Linked DNA regions of Homo sapiens: region 1 is linked to region 2. A link means that fine-mapping ties the variant in region 2 to the expression of a gene that starts in the linked region. Tissue or cell type: skeletal muscle. Region 2 holds a variant in brackets; the other region holds the start of a gene. All regions are shown on one strand. Distances are between the middles of the regions.

Region 1 (8,108 bases), 120 kb after region 2:
CAGTGCTCTAGAAACAAGTTTACATGTTTACCAAAGAGGAAAAATTTAATATATCCACAGGCAAGCAAAAATTTGCATGAAATGTATACTATATTTACGAAGCTAAAAAAACTGGAAGTTACCTTAATGCCCAACTGCAGGAAATACTTGTAAATTAATCCACTCAGAGGACTAATATGCACCCAATAAAAATCATGTCAATCAAAAGAAAATATACAAAGGCCAGGCACAGCGGCTCACGCGTGTAATCCCAGCACTTTGGGAGCTGAGGCGGGTGGATCACGAGGTCAGGAGTTCAAGACCAGTTTGTCCAAGATGGTGAAACCCCGTCTCTACTGAAAATACAACAAAAATTAGCCAGGCGCGGTGGCAGGCACCTGTAATCCCAGCTACTCAGGAGGCTGATGCAGGAGAATTGGTTGAACCCAGGTGGCAGAGGTTGCAGTGAGCCAAGACTGCACCACTGCACCCCAGCCTGGGCAACAGAGTGAGACTCTGTCTCAAAATAAAAAAGAAAAGAAAAAGAAAAAGAAATATTAATATTTGATCCAAAAAAGTTTTTAACACACGTTAGAAGGAAATATGTCGGCCGGGCGTGGTGGCTCATGCCTGTAATCCCAGCACTTTGGGAGGCCGAGGCGGGCGGATCATGAGGTCAGGAGATCGAGACCATCCTGGCTAACACAGTGAAACCCCGCCACTACTAAAAATACAAAAAATTAGCCGGGCGTGGTGGCGGGCACCTGTAGTCCCAGCTACTTGGGAGGCTGAGGCAGGAGAATGGCGTAAACCTGGGAGGCAGAGCTTGCAGTGAGCCGAGATCGCGCCACTGCACTCCAGCCTGGGCGACAGAGCGAGACTCCGTCTCAAAAAAAGAAAAAAAAAGGAAATATGTCAAAAAATTAACAGCAGTTATTTCCTGGTGTTAAGTTTACAGGTGATTTTTATTTTTTATTCTACTATAAGGTATTACTATTATAGTGAAAACTATTTAAAATATAGTTTTTACAGTAAAAGAAGAAATGTCTTTTTTTTTTTTTTTTTGAGACAGGGTCTCAACTCTGTCACCCAGGCTGGAATGCAGTGGTGTAATCACAGCTCACTGCAGTTCTGTCCTCCAGGACTCAAGCAATCCTCCCATCTCAGCCTCCTGACTAGCTGGGACTACAGGTGCACATCACCATGCCCAGCTAGCTTTTGTATTTTTAGTAGAGACAAGGTTTCGCCATGCTGCCCCAGCTCCTCTTGAACTCCTGAGCTCAAGTGATCTGCCTGCCTCAGCCTCTCTAAGTGCTGGGATTACAGGCATGAGCCACCATGCCCGGCCAGGAATGTCTTAAAATACTTATTGTATGAATAATGAATTCTATCAGTACTAGCTAAGAGACTTGGACTTTATCCTACAAGTATTGAGATTTGACTAGAAAAACTAAGTAATTTTTTCCTTAAAAGCTCTCAGGAAATGAAGGGTCATTTCCTGATTCCTTATTCTATATTAGGTCCCTCTGTTATAGGCTCTTATAAGACCAGGTTTCTTTCCCTTTCTAGCTCTTACATAAACTCATAATTACAGACTTGTATTACTTGATTTGTGTCTGTAATGCACTAGACTGCACATTTAGTAAAAGCAGAAACCGTACCTGTTTTACTAACCACCACATCCCTAAATCCGTAATGTGCACTGTGCTTGACATATGGGGATTCAATAAATATTGTCAATGAACAAATGATAAAAAGAGTTATGGGCTTCTATACAGTTCTCTCAATAAATTATCTATATAGTTCATAACATATTGTACTCACAAGATCTTTCATTTAAAATTAAACTCAAGGTTTGAGACTTCAAAGTCTTAACATTTTCTCTCATGAATTGTAAAATGCACACTACAGTGTAAAAGCCAAAAACCAAATTTTCTACTTTGCAATAGTTCTTATAACGGTGTTAATAATTATTTCCATATGCAAAGCTAAAGGACTTAATATTCCACTTCAGGATATTTTTAACTAGGGGAAAGTGATCATTTTTCCATTCAAAACTGATGTTTCCCTACCCCACCCTCCAAGATTTGAATTACATTTTTCTAACTACCTTCAAGACATCAAATTATTTCAAAATCAACAGGTTCAAATCTTCTCACTTTGACACTTCCTTACATTCATTCTTACAGGCAAAAAACTACAGTTCACATTTGATTTTTCCCACTTTTAACGTATCATCAAGTTTATTACCTAAATCTTCTCTGAAATATGTTACAATCCTCCCTTCTAGGTTCCCTTTGTATTCCAGTCCACAAATCACCATCCTAATTATGAATCAAGTTAAGTCTCCCACCATTATTCTACATCATGTCCTAAAACCACTTTCATCATATCACCTGGCCACTCTAAAACGAAGGGTCTCTCACTATTGTCTTAAGCAGTGGTTCTTTCTAAGTGTGGTCTCCTGACCAGCAGCATCTGAATTACCTGAGACCGTGTTACACAAGCAAAATTTTCAGTCCCACCTCAGACCTACAGAATCAGAAACTCTGAGGATGGGGCCCAGCAATCTAAGACTCTGATGTACATTAAAGTATGAGAATCACTGGTCATAGGAATACTGAATCTGGATTCCTGTATTTAGTTTGGGAAGATGTCCATAACCCAATCCCGTCTTCCTTGTTAACCTTATTTATTTCCCTTCAATAGACAGTCTTCACTCTAGTGAAGATATATTTCTTCATTCAGTCCCTTCAAAGATTCATTCTCACCTATGTCTCTACCCATGTCAGTCCATTCTCATGTTTAACCAACCACTTCCCACTTTCAAGGCCCAGCTCATTTCCTATCTTTTCTATGAAAATATCTCCAACTATTGTAGTCCACAATATCACCCCTATTTAAATAATAATTATTTTAATTATTATTTTTACAGGTAGTACCAACTGGCTTACATTTTAACTATTTGCTGTTTGTTGTTTTTTAAAAATATATGGGTCAAGTTTCTGCTTTTCCCTTTGTATATAGCTCTGGACACCCAGTACCTACTCAATGAAGTCTTGCCAGTGTGGTTATGTCTTACTGACACTTTTATGAAGGGTACCACAGGTCTAACTATTATTCCAACAAGGACCTTTTATATTTTCCTGTGCCACCTAATGACACGACATCCACAAATTTCCTCTCCCAACCAGAAAGATTATAAAATGCTGTAACAGCGTAAACACTGACTTCAACACCCAGGAAACTGAAGGGTTTCTGTGACACTTAACAGAAACCTTCTCGATCTAAGCTATCACTCCTCCACAAACTTGGCTTTCAACTAATTTCAGTAATAGAACAGTTTCACCCAGACAGCTGTTCATCTGAATTTGACAGGCACAGGAAGCCTGGGCACAGTACCCACTTTAATGTAACAACTTAAATCAAAGCATTCCAAAACCATATGCAGACTTTTTAAAAAGGTTATTCTAAAAGACAGGATGGGCGGAGGCTCACGCCTGTAATCTCAGCACTTTGGGCGGCCCAGGCTTGAGCCCAGGAGTTCAAGACTAGCCTGGGCAACACAGCGAGATCTTTAAAAAATTAGTTGGGCGTAATAGCGCGTGCCTGTGGTCCCAGCTCCTCCCGAGGCTAAAGCGGGAGCTTCACTTGAGCCTAGGAGTTCGAGGCCGCAGTAAGCTATGACCTCGCCACTGCACTCCGGCCTGGGCGGACAGACTGAGACTCTGTCTCCAAAAATAAATAAAAATAAAAAATTAAAGACAGCATGGAGATGGTGGGAGTGTGACAGATGGACAACTACCAATACTCTGAAGAAAGACTTCCTCCTGAAAAGGGTATACCAACGTACACGGGATGAGGTGCGGCACAACCTACCAAGTTTACTGCTTACGATAATGAGTTAAACGGTAATGAAAACCGGAACGGTTGTTGCAGCCTCGGAAATTTTTCTTGCGAGTGGGTAACAACCAGAAAACCAAAGTCTAAGGGAAGCGGTCTGACAGGAGAGAAAACAAAACTTTCTGAGAGCCTGAGCCTCAGGGATTGGCTGACGGGGGCGGGCCGGGTGTTGCCAGACGCGAGACGCGGAAGAGGCTTGCGGTTGACCAAAGAAGACTGGGGGAGGAGACCCGGGACCCACGGTATTACCGTTCCCGCACAAGTGGCGTCACTTGTGGTGTGTCTGGGGTCAGGGAAGCGGCTAGGGGACGCCAGGGCCCATGGGAGCTGGTAACCAAAAATGCGATTCACTCACCTTTCCCATTCCGAGGCAGTGGTGAAGTCCGTGATCTCAAATACCTCGGATTCGGGCTGCGGGAAGGGGAAGGAGAGAAAAAGAAATTAAGCCCCAAGGCGAAGACATGAGGAACGAATTTAGATAGTGACAAGGATTAAGTAGGGAGCAAAGAAATCACCTCACTGTCGGCAGCCATCTTGAGGAGCGCCGGGCCTGGCGCTAAGGCTGCCGGGAAGAAGAGCGAAAGAGAACGGGGCGCGTCCCCGCCCCCGGAGCCCCCGCCCCCTGTTCATGAGTCTTGCCCTAGTAAGTAGGAGTGCTGCTTCTTCGCCCAGGTCTGTTAAGTCTTTAGTCCGCCCTCAGCTGGTTAATAAAACTCCGCTCTAGCTGGTTTCATAAAACTTGAAAATTTCCTGTGATGAATACAGAAAGGGAACAGAAGCCAAGGTGATAGGACAAGACCCTAAACTCATGTGGATAAGATTGTATTAAAAAACCTAAAGCATGTTGGGTTTGTTTTCATTCAACCCATATTTGTAGTTAGTACCAATTAGCTTACACTTTAACTATTGGGTTTCTTTTCATTCACCCTCTATTTATTGATTGTAAGGCAATAAACTAGGTGCTGTAATACCACTTCTACCCTCTGCCCCTGACCCTGCAAGAAGTTGCTCAGTTGATTGTCCTGAAATAAAATCATACTAGTTACCTGGTTTCTGGGAAGAGCAACATGGTGTTCAACAAACGCTTCATTTTTTTTTTTTTTTTTTTTTTTTTTTTTTTTTTTTTGAGACGGAGTCTTGCTCTGTCGCCCAGGCTGGAGTGCAGTGGCACGATCTTGGCTCACTGCAAGCTCCGCCTCCCGGGTTCACGCCATTCTCCTGCCTCAGCCTCCCGAGTAGCCGGGACCACAGGCGCTCGCCACCACGCCCGGCTAATTTTTTGTATTTTTAGTAGAGATGAGGTTTCATCGTGTTAGCCAGGATGGTCTCGATCTCCTGACCTCATGATCTGCCCACCTCGGTTCTGTCGCCAGGCTGGAGTGCAGTGGCGCGATTTCGGCTCACTGCAATCTCTGCCTCCTGGGTTCAAGTGATTCTCATGCCTCAGCCTCCCGAGTAGCTGGGATTACAGGCATGCGCCACAACACCCAGCTAATTTTTGTATTTTTGGTAGAGATGGGGTTTCACCATGTTGGCCAGGATGGTCCCGATCTCCTGACCTTGTGATCCGCCCCCCTCGGCCTCCCAAAGTGCTGGGATTACAGGTGTGAGCCACTGTGCCTGGCCTTGTCTTTATTTTAACACCTTCAAGTTATTTATATATATTCTGCATCTGAGCTTTATATTGTTTATATATGTAGCAAATACCTTCTCCCACTCTGCAGCTTGCTTTTTCACTATTTTTTTTTCAGACTGGTGCTCTAAAAAAGCAGACACTACAATTCCAAGCTGGCGAAGTCTCTGAAGTCCAACTGGAAGTGCTAGGGCAAAAATTATGCATCAGGAAATGCGTAGCCCCTTGTACTACTGCCTTGCTCCGTCAATCATTGGCCAGGATCTCCCCAAGAAAACAGTGGCCTTGGCTATCACTGTTTGCTCAGTTTTTGGCTGGAGGAAGCACTCCAAGAATAGCAGGTCCTTGGCTCAACAGTTAGACAAACCTGATAAACCCAACAGCCGTAGGCTGTTCATCTAACCACACGCCTTACAGCTGGGCAGTGAGTCTTTCTTTAAGGGAGGTCTGAGCAGCACATCTTTTGTGTCTGCCACTCTCTTTTAATAGACAGCCTCTTTTAACATGCACCTACAATGTTTTCGACATCCTGTGCTTTCTCTTTCCTCTGGACATGCTGTCGTTTAGAATCTGCAATGTCCTTGTGTCTATAGTTTACCTGGTAAAATTTGTCCTTCAAGTTTCAGCTTGGATATTTGCTCTTCTGTGAAGACTTTCTCTGCCCCCTGTTAGGAGCTTATTTGTATTTGCAACCAGTTTGGTGGTAATCGATTGGATTCTCACTCAAAATTCATATGTTGAAGCCCTAACTCCTAGTACCTCAAAATGTGACTGTATTTATGGACAGGGTGTTTAAAGAGGTGATTAAGTTAAAATTAGGCCGCTAGAGTGGGCCCTAATCCAATCTGACTAGTGTCCTTATGAGAAGAGATTAGGACACCAGGGATGTGCACACACAGAGGAAAGGCCATGTGGGGACACAGAGAGTAGGTGGCCACCTGCAAACCAAGGAGAGAGGCCTCAGGAGAAACCCAACCTGCTGATACCTTGGTCGTGGGCTTCTAGTCTTCAGAGCTGTGAGCAAATAAAAAAATATTTTTTTGAGATGGAGTCTTGCTCTGTCACCCAGGCTGGAATGCAGTGGTGAGATCTTGGCTCACTGCAACGTTCACCTGCCAGATTCAAGCAATTTTCCAGCCTCAGCCTTCTGAGTAGCTGGGATTACAGGCATGTGCCACCACATCCAGCTAATTTTTGTATTTTTAGTAGAGACAGCATTTCACCTTATTGGCCAGACTGGTCTCAAACTCCTGACCTCAGGTGATCAACCCTCCTCGGCCTCCCAGAGTGCTGGGATTACAGGTGTGAACCACGGCGCCCAGCCCTGTGAGCAAATAAATTTTTGTTGTTTAAGCCTTCCAGTCTGTGGCATTTTGTTCAAGCAGCCCTAGGCAAACATACATCCCCCACCCTCAACCCAGGAAGTCAGACACTCCCCTTCCATGCTTCCTTAGAGCTTTTGACACAGCCCTAGGGCAGCCTGATATTGTCCTTGTTTTGTATGCCTATCCCTCCACTATTTCTAAACATTGAGTTTCTTGAAAAAGAGAATGGTTTGAATGACTCTATCTCAAAATGAGAGACAAAAGGAGGATTCCTTTTTTGTTTAAAGACAGGATGTCTTTCTGTTTCCCAGGCTGGAGTGAAGTGGCATGATCATAGCTCACTGCAGCCTCAAACTCTTGGACTCAACCAATCCTCCTGCCTCAGACTCCTGAGTAGCTGAAACTACAGGTGCCCACCACCACGTCCAGCAATTTTTTCTATTTTTTGCAGAGACATGGTCTCACTATGTTGCTCAGGCTGGTCTCAAACAACTAAGCTCAAGCAATCCTCCTACCTTGGCCTCCCAAAGTGCTGGGATTACAGGCGTGAGCCACTGCGCATAGCCAGAAGATTACATTTTTTGGGGGGGGTGGGAACGGAGTCTTGCTCACTCTGTCACCCAGGCTGGAGTGCAGTGGCACAATCCCGACTCACTGTAACCTCCGCCTCCTGGGTTCAAAGCAATTCTGCCTCAGCCTCCCGAGTAGCTGGGATTACAGGCACTAGCCACCACACCCGGCTAATTTTTTTTTTTGAGATGGAGTCTTGCTCAGTCGCCCAGGCTGGAGTGCAGTGGTGCGATCTCGGCTCACTGCAAGCTCCGCCTCCCAGGTTCACGCCATTATCCTGACTCAGCCTCCCGAGTAGCTGGGACTACAGGCGCCTGCCACCACACCCGGTTATTTTTTTTGTATTTTCAGTAGAGACGGGGTTTCACCGTGTTAGCCAAGATGGTCTCGAACTCCTGACCTCGTGATCCACCCACCTCAGCCTCCCAAAGTGCTGGGATTACAGGTGTGAGCCACCACGCCTGGCCTAATTTTTTTATTTTTGGTAGAGATGGGGTTTCACCATGTTGGCCAGGCTGGTCTGGAACTCCTGACCTAAGGTGATCCACCCACCTCAACCTCCCAGAGTGCTAGGATTACAGGTGTGAGCCACCACATCTGGCCAGGATTACTTTTTGAGAAGCCAATTTAAAGATTCATGGATTGCAGACAAGCTGGAACCCTAGGATAACCTGGCAGAAATCCTAAAAGTCAGAAAC
Region 2 (8,108 bases):
GCAGTTTAAAAATAAGCATCTTACACAGTTTCTGAGGGTCAGTCATCTGGGAGTGGCTTAGCTGGTGGTCCAGGCCCAAGGTCCCTCCTGAGGCTGCAGTTACCTGCAGGCCAGGAGGATCCACTTCCAAGCTTACTCATGTGGCTGTTGGCAGGGACCTTCCATTCCGCACCATGTGGGCCTCTCTTTACGAACCAAAATAGAAGTTGCAATGGCTCCTATAACCAACCTTGGGAGTGACATACCAACACTTCCTCCATGTTCTGTTGTTCAGAGACTAACCCTGGTACAATGGGTGTGGGTCTGGGGGACTTCACAGGGTGTGTGAGTTGGAGGCAGGAGGCTGGCCACCACAGCCATCTAATAAACCTCTAAAAATTAACATGGCCCAAGCTCAAATTCATCACTCGCAGCAGCCCCACAACTTGCTCTTCCCTGTCTTCTCCATCGTAGTAAATGACAGCATCATTCACTCAGGTCCCAAACCTTCAAGTCATCCTTGACTCTCAGACCCTCACTGAATCCATTTGTAAATTCTGCACATTCTGCCTTCAAGATCTGTATCAAATCTGATCCCTTTTACCCTCCATGGCTACCACACCAGTCCAGAGTGCTCTCACCTCCCCTCGTCTCACTAGTTTCACTACTTCCACCCCAGCCTCTGCAGTGTATTTTCCACACAGTGGCCAATGGGATTTTTTTTTTTTTTTGAGACAGAGTCTCACTCTGTTGCCCAGGCTGGAGTGCAATGGCATGATCTTGGCTCACTGCAACCTCCACCTTCCAGGTTCAAGCAATTCTCCTGCCTTAGCCTCCAGAGTAGCTGGGACTACAGGCGTGCACCACCATGCCCAGCTAATTTTTTTTTTTAACTTTTAATAGAGACGGGGTTTCACCTTGTTGGCCAGGCTGGTCTCGAACTCCTGACCTCATGTGATCCGCCCGCCTCGGCCTCCCAAAGTGCTGGGATTACAGGCACGAGCCACTGCGCCCAGCCCCAAAGAGATTTTTAAATGTCACATCATGACATTCCCTGGTTCAAACTCTCCAATGGCTTCCCTTCTTAATCAAGAAAACAAATCTCAACTCCTACAGCTTTACACATCTGGCCCTTGCACGTGTGCAACTTTCTTTCCTGCCCCTCTTCCCCTCACTCCCCTTCAGCCACAGTGGCCTTCCTTCTGTGCTTCCCACGTGCCGGGTACACTCCTGCCTCAGGCTTTTCATTGGCCAATCCCTGTCTGCAGTCTTCTCCTAGTCATCTATATACAGGACTGCTTCCTCACTTCAGTCTCTGCCCAAGTGTCACTGCCTCGTAAGCCCCTCCCTTATCAAACCTCCTAGAAGACAGACTCCCTTCCTAGACCCACTGCTGACACTTGGTGTCCCACACTGTGAGCTTCCTGAGCACCAGGTCTTCCACGTTCTAGTCACTGCTGTCTCCCTGATGCCTAGAACAGTACCTGGCACATAGCAGGTACTCAATAAACATTTGCTGGACTAATGAATGAAATATAAACATAAATGCTTAGGGTTTTAAAATACCCCAACTTGAAGAAAAATCTGAATTATTACAGTGGTATAGGAATGTATGGGGGTAGGAGGGCCCTGGAGAGGCCATTTCACAAGCATGTGCACCTCTTAGGAGCACGGTCTCAGGCACACAGGTGGATTAAAAAACACATTGCAGTTGTAATTGCCACCTTTCTTCTAAGGAGCAGACAGTTTAGCTCAAGATATACGACAGCTGTATACTTTCTTAGCATCTCCTCTCCTGCCAGAGTGTGGCCTTTCTAAAACCCACCATGTCACTCCCCTGCACAAAACCCTTCAGTGACTCACTACCGCCCCAAAGGCAAAGCCCTAACTTGTAGCTGCGGCTTCCCCCGAACTTCTTGGTCTTGCCTTAGTTCACCTCACCATCTTCATTTCTTGCCCCTTCCCACTCTAGATACCACACTTCAGCCAAATAGAAATGTTGGCTGCCCCCCAAATAGACATTTTCCCTTATTTCTGGGATTTTGCCCATTCCGTTCCTCTGCTTGTAATACGCTTTCTGCCCCCTCCTGTCAGTTACCTTTTGCCCCAACTCTCACCCTAGAGTGGCCTTCTTCACAGTGGCTTCAAGGCTCCTGGCAAGAAGGGAGGGCAAGCCCCAATGTGCAAGGACTTGTCAAGTCTCTGTCTGTTGACCAAAGAAAGACATGGCCGAGACCAGATTGAAGAGGTGGAGAAATAAAGCACTTCACAATGAAAATCATGATTTCATTGCACACAGGGCTGGAGGAATGCCTGGTTCTCTGCAAGCCATTTCCCATACGCCCCCCATGCTTTCCCCAGTGCCTACTCAGCTTCTGGTCTCAATCCCAAAATCACACCCTCTGGGGTAATTTTCCTGATCCTCAAAGCCTGGGTGAAGAAACTCCTACAACACTTTATGACATTGCTGCATTTATTACTCCGTACTGCCAATGAATACATGAATGTAGGATTACATTCAATTATTTGTAGGATAAATGCAGGCCCTCCGATCCACACAGCAGAGTTGACTATACTCAACATTTTGTGGCAACGTGGTGTCAGTTTTCCCTGTAAGGGAGTGTGTTTTGGTTTCTGTTTTATCTTCATTGCTTGTACTGTACCTGACACAAAGTGGGTACTTAAATATATCTGTGAAATAAATACATAACTATCATAAAAATAAAATGGAGTACTTTAAAAAGGCACAAAGAATGTTCTTGAGACCACTGCCTTGTTAGGCTCAGCAGGCTGCAAACATTAGAGCTGAGACAGCACAAAACCACATGAAATTAGACTGAAATGCCTCAGCGGGAGAAAATGAAAGAAAACGCCACAGAAAGCGACACTTTCCTTTTATTAGATTCACAATGCCTTTGTAACGCCCAACCTCTCCTTTGTAGAATTTTTCTTTGTTAGAAAACAGACAAACTCTGTCCTTAGGAACCGTCTTCTACTTGGTACAGCACTGGCCTCAGGCCGCCTGCATCTGCGTGGACCAGTAAGAATGAAGTCCAGCAGCATAGAGAAAAGCATCATAAAGGCTGGGAGGTCATCCCCCAGGGCCTCCCCTACTTCACATACACAGAGACGTGTGCATATGTCACACACACACACATATTATATATAGATATGTATTTTTTTTTTTTTTTACAAAAATAACAGGGTTTGCACAGCTCTATTAATTTTTTAAAATTACACAGGCAAGGTTTATGCTTCAGTATAACCATTTTTACTTTGGATTTAAGTGGGAATTTTAGGCCTAAAAATAAGATTACCAAGCAGAGGCCATCTAGCCACACAGACACAAGACATCTTGAGCTCCATGAAACTAGAAATGTGGTGATGTCATCCTCACACGGGGGGGCTACACATCCCCATCGATTATTTTAACTAAAATACAAAAGCAAAATAGTGTGTTAAAATAATCCTCTACTCAATGCATTAGCACATATACCAAATTATACTATCTGCATGACAGTCTCTAGGTACCAAGACTGTATTTTTGCAAGTGCTATTCTCTACTTCATTAAATACAGTACCCAGCCAGCAACCACAAAAAGAGAACGCATGCTGTACAGCAAGAGAAGGGGAGGGAGACGATTTTCAGGGCCATAACTTCCATGGCAACCAAAAGAAAAATAAGTAAGACAAATCTCACATGACAGATATAAAACTAATTTGCAGTGACATTTGATATATAGTTTTATCAGAAGTAATACATTTAGGTTACAGTTACATGAAAAAGAGAAACTATGTGAAATTATAGGCTTTCTCCTAGAATATCCAAAATGCTCATCAACAGTTAATTAGTACAAGAAAGATGACCACCAGGTGATTGAATAGACAGAATGTCATGTAGTATTTTAAAAACACAGATTCTGGGACTAGAAGCTACCACCAAAATATCCAGAAATCTGAGTTAACAGGTCCTTTATTTTGCACACTTGCTGCTGATATATAGAACCACGAAGTGTTTGCACAGACCACGAATGCAGCCGCTAGCCTAGAGGCTGGTCACAGAAGAGAATGCGATGAACACCGTCCTGCCAGTGTGAGGACGGAGTGTCTGATGTGTTTGTGTCCCCCCACCACCCCCCCATATACAAAGGCCATCTCTAGGGCAGAAATCTCTCAACAGCTCAAGCCCATCCTCGCTGCCCCCTCCACGAAACGACACAGCTCAAGCTTGGTGCTGGGAAGTCTTTCC[G/C]ATGCTGGTTTGATTCCTGATCACCCAACTGGACAGGGCCCTCTCCAGGACCTCCCAGGTTCTCCCTGGTACCTTCCCTCCCTCAGGAGGAGGCAGCACTGTCTCTGAAGCCACCAACGAGTAATGCTAGAAGAATCAGAAGAAGGAAGTATCTGATGAAAAGGCACCTGCAAGTCTAAAGTCCTCTTTGGTGAGAACACTGTACATCCGCTGAGGCAGAGCTTTGGAGTAGGGAGCAGGGCGCGGCACAGTGGTGCGCAAAATGAATTCCCGGCCAGCAGGGGGTGGGAAGTCTGACACGGAGTTCTGCCTTCTTTCCTCTGGGGAGCCCATTCTCTTCAATTCCTCCTCTGGTGGAGTCATAGCTGCAGCCTGGAAAAGAATCAAATGCTAAAGTCAAAAGCAGGTCAAATGCTAAACTCAGATGCTTTTGAAGGACAGATGAATTAACATAATAAAGATATGAAAATGTCCCACGTTACTCAGTAATGCAGTCAGCTATATGTTAAGATTACTCAAAAACCACATAACACAGCAAATGCAAGAAGCTTGAGACACTGCATGAGCAGCCGGGCTGGAGACAGACAGGAGGGATGATGACTGCCAGGCAATCTGCTCTGAAGAGAGAAGGCCATATTTACACATCTGATGAAAAAGGACCTCGGAGCTGTGCTGCTTTCTATGTTTCTTCCAGCAATGACCCAAGTCTACGTCTGACAGCCTCAGTCCAGTAAGGAGCTGTTTTTCTCCAGAGTGAAAAGATGATTTTCATCTTGACTCTGGGTAAGAATTTTTTAATCGATTCTTTTTAAGGTTCACTTGCCAAATTAAAAGTGGGGGCATTGGTCTTGCTTGCTGGGCAGCTAATGTGATGCCGAAGTGATAGAGGCCCATATAGCAATGACCACAAAAGAGAAGTTCGCAATATTAAAGGCATCTATTTTTTCATTGAAATGACATAAAATGCATGTTCATTTACAGCCTACAATTTTAATTCTGATTACTGTACTTTTTTTAATACCATCAATTTGGGAAAAAAAATTGTTTTGGCAATGGAAACATGAAATCATGTTGCGCTAAACATCAGCAAGGTAGGTAAGCCAAATCCAGACTGTGAGAGAGGTGGTTAGTGTTAATGACCTTATGAAATTAGAGGGATGGGAAGGAACAAGGAACTATGAGGGGCAAAGGCTATTTTGTTACCTCATCAGAAGATTCAGTCAGCTTGAGAAGGGGTAAGAAAAGAAACAGTGATGAAAGGGAAACAAGCAAGATGGTTTAAATAGGGCTAGACAAGGGAGTTCAGGATTATTTCAAAGACAGTATGCACTACATTATGGAACATGATCCTATCAAAAGAATATTCAAGACAAAGTCACACCAAACACAGCACACCCAGCTGTCAACTACAGCAGACATCTACTACTACTCATGCATCCATGGCTCAACAGGTGACATATGATGTCATTTAATGGGAGAAATGAACAACAAAAACCTAGCTCTTTTACTGGGAATTATGATGCAAAAAAAAAAAAAAGTGTTCATGGCTTGAAAAATAGAATTTAGGAATAGGTGCCTAACAGTTATTCAATCTAGCAAGTCTGAAGCGAAATCCAGTCAGTCATTTATTTGCTGAATTCCATTTAAGTATGTACATACCAGAGATACCTATAATCATGATAAGGCTTATTACTATTTATAATTTTAAAGAAAAGTTATAAATATATAGAATTACTATAAGCTATAAAAACACCAAGTGAAATTACATCACAACTTTTTAAAAAAATGTGTTAAAATCTTGACTAATTAGTAAAATTGATATAAAGTATCAGCTAATGAAAAGTTACATGAATAAATTCTAACAGTTTACTTCAGCCAGACATTTAAAACTGAGTTTAAAAATGTACCAACCAGATGCTTGTTATATGTATTACACAGTCTACCAATTCCCTAAAAACATTCACTACAAGGTCTGAAAACTTTAAAATCTTTTCTTAAATGACATAATGTAGATGGATGTACAATTTCAGTAGCCATTAAGGGGGTTAGCTATACAATGAGGCTACTGAAAGATGATATACTATGTTCCTGTATTTAGTGATTTTGAAAGATATCTTAAGTATATTAAGTGGAAAACAAGAATAATGAAGTAATTATATAATATAACCCTACTTTTAAAATTATATATACATATGTATATACTAGATGTTAAATCATCAATGGGTAGTGAGATTATGTGATTAATATTTTCTTATAATTTTCTAGGCCAGGTGTGATAGCTCACACACACCTATAATCTCAGCACTTTGGGAGGTTAAGGAAGGAGAATTGCTTGAAACCAGGAGTTCTAGATAAGCCTGGGCAACAAAGTGAGACCCCGTCCCTACAAAAAATATAAAAATTAACTGGGCGTGGTGGTGCATGCCTGTGGCTCCAGCTTCTTGGGAGGTTGAAGCAAGAGGATTGCTTAAACCTAGGAGTTCAAGGCTGCAGTGAGTTATGATCTTGCCACTGTACTCCAGCCTGGACCACAGAGTGAGACCCTCTCTTTAAAAAATGAATAAATAAATATAAAAGTTCCTATATTGTCAAAGTTTTACTTGCAGTCAGTAGAGGGGGTAAGGAGGTTATTTCTATTTTGGGGAAAATAATTTTGCTTAGTTATCTAAAATAAGTAACAATCTCAGGACTAAAAATATAAATACTTCACATTTTAAATCCTCTTAACACATAACTTTTTTTTTTTTTTTGAGATGGAGTTTTATCACCCAGGCCGGAGTGCAGTGGCATGATCTCAGCTCACTGTAACCTCTGCCTCTCGGGTTCAAGTGATTCTCCTGCCTCAGCCTCCCAAGTAGCTGAGATTACAGGTGCTCACCACCACGCCCAGCTAATTTTTGTATTTTTAGTAGAGAAAGGGTTTCACCACATTGGCCAGGCTGGTCTTGAACTCCTGACCTCAGGTGATCCACCCACCTCAGCCTCCCAAAGTTACAGGCGTGAGCCACCGCACCCAGCCAACATGTCACTTATTAAAAATGATCAAAGAGGAAAGAATTTTTGCAATATGAGGAACATTCATATTGGTAGCTAACAAGGAAATGCGCTTGTAAGCTTCTGGGTAGTGAACTGGATAGATATTATCAGATGTGGAACCAAACTCGGTTCTTGTTTTCATGCCAGAGAGAAAAACAAAATAAATCAAAGCAAGCATCTATTGTTTGCTAGAAGTCTAATTTATAAGGAAATAAATATTTGGTTATTAATTTGAAATTCTGAGGTTTAGGGAGCTGCCCCATAAACAAACTCAGATTTTAGCTCTTGCTAAGAATTCCTATCAGTGTATTTGGCTATGAATTTGAATATATTAACTAGTTGTACTCCAGACCAACTCTACAGGGATTATCCAGTTGTTATTCCACGTGTAGACACATAGAAATTCTTTTTCTTATTTGTTTCTGAAAATTACACTCTCAAAACTGGGTCATTCTAGTGTAATCACAGTGCCATATAAGGGGAAGCGTGTAATTAGTGCACATAACGCCTTTATCAGAATCCCTAATATTAATGAGCCCTGAACTGAGAATTATCTGTAGGATGCCAGAGCCCTTAGCCAGTAACCAAGATACAATATAATTTTAAAATCTTTACTTTCACTACTAGAGGTAATGGTTATGATAATTTTTCAAACTGGGCTTTCTTTCTGTGCTGAAATCTGTTTCCACAGCCCTAAAAATCTGAAGTTTTCCTCTTCTTTTCTAGGAAACCTCAAAGGTAGATCTCCTCACCATTACAAGAACAATTATATTTATAATTCAAGCTGAGTTGTGACTCCACTTTGCCCTACATGGGGTTTAAAGATGGTAAAACTGAACTCCAT

Alleles and levels. Alleles are on the strand shown, and positions count from the first base shown. SD is a standard deviation of normalised expression in the study named.
For the expression in skeletal muscle of the gene that starts at base 4,431 in region 1, C is the low allele of the variant in region 2 and G is the other (moderate effect, 0.69 SD a copy in GTEx).

What was found. PIP is the estimated chance that this variant, and not a neighbour inherited with it, causes the effect.
Region 1: RAB3GAP1 starts here. The variant in region 2 is fine-mapped to the expression of RAB3GAP1 in skeletal muscle (GTEx, PIP 0.93).

The regions. Positions count from the first base shown.
Region 1 is chr2:135,048,615-135,056,722 of GRCh38, reverse strand. RAB3GAP1 (RAB3 GTPase activating protein catalytic subunit 1) reads right to left here and starts at 4,431. Exons shown (of 24, transcript NM_012233.3): 1 at 4,398-4,431; 2 at 4,238-4,293. The coding sequence starts at 4,415. RefSeq lists an enhancer at 3,719-3,858.
Region 2 is chr2:135,165,037-135,173,144 of GRCh38, reverse strand. It overlaps RAB3GAP1 (RAB3 GTPase activating protein catalytic subunit 1), which reads right to left. Exons shown (of 24, transcript NM_012233.3): 24 at 2,435-4,600. The coding sequence ends at 4,364. Among named protein-coding and RNA genes, the nearest start is that of SNORA40B, 32 kb to the right of the region's middle. The variant G/C (reference allele first, on the strand shown) is at 4,229.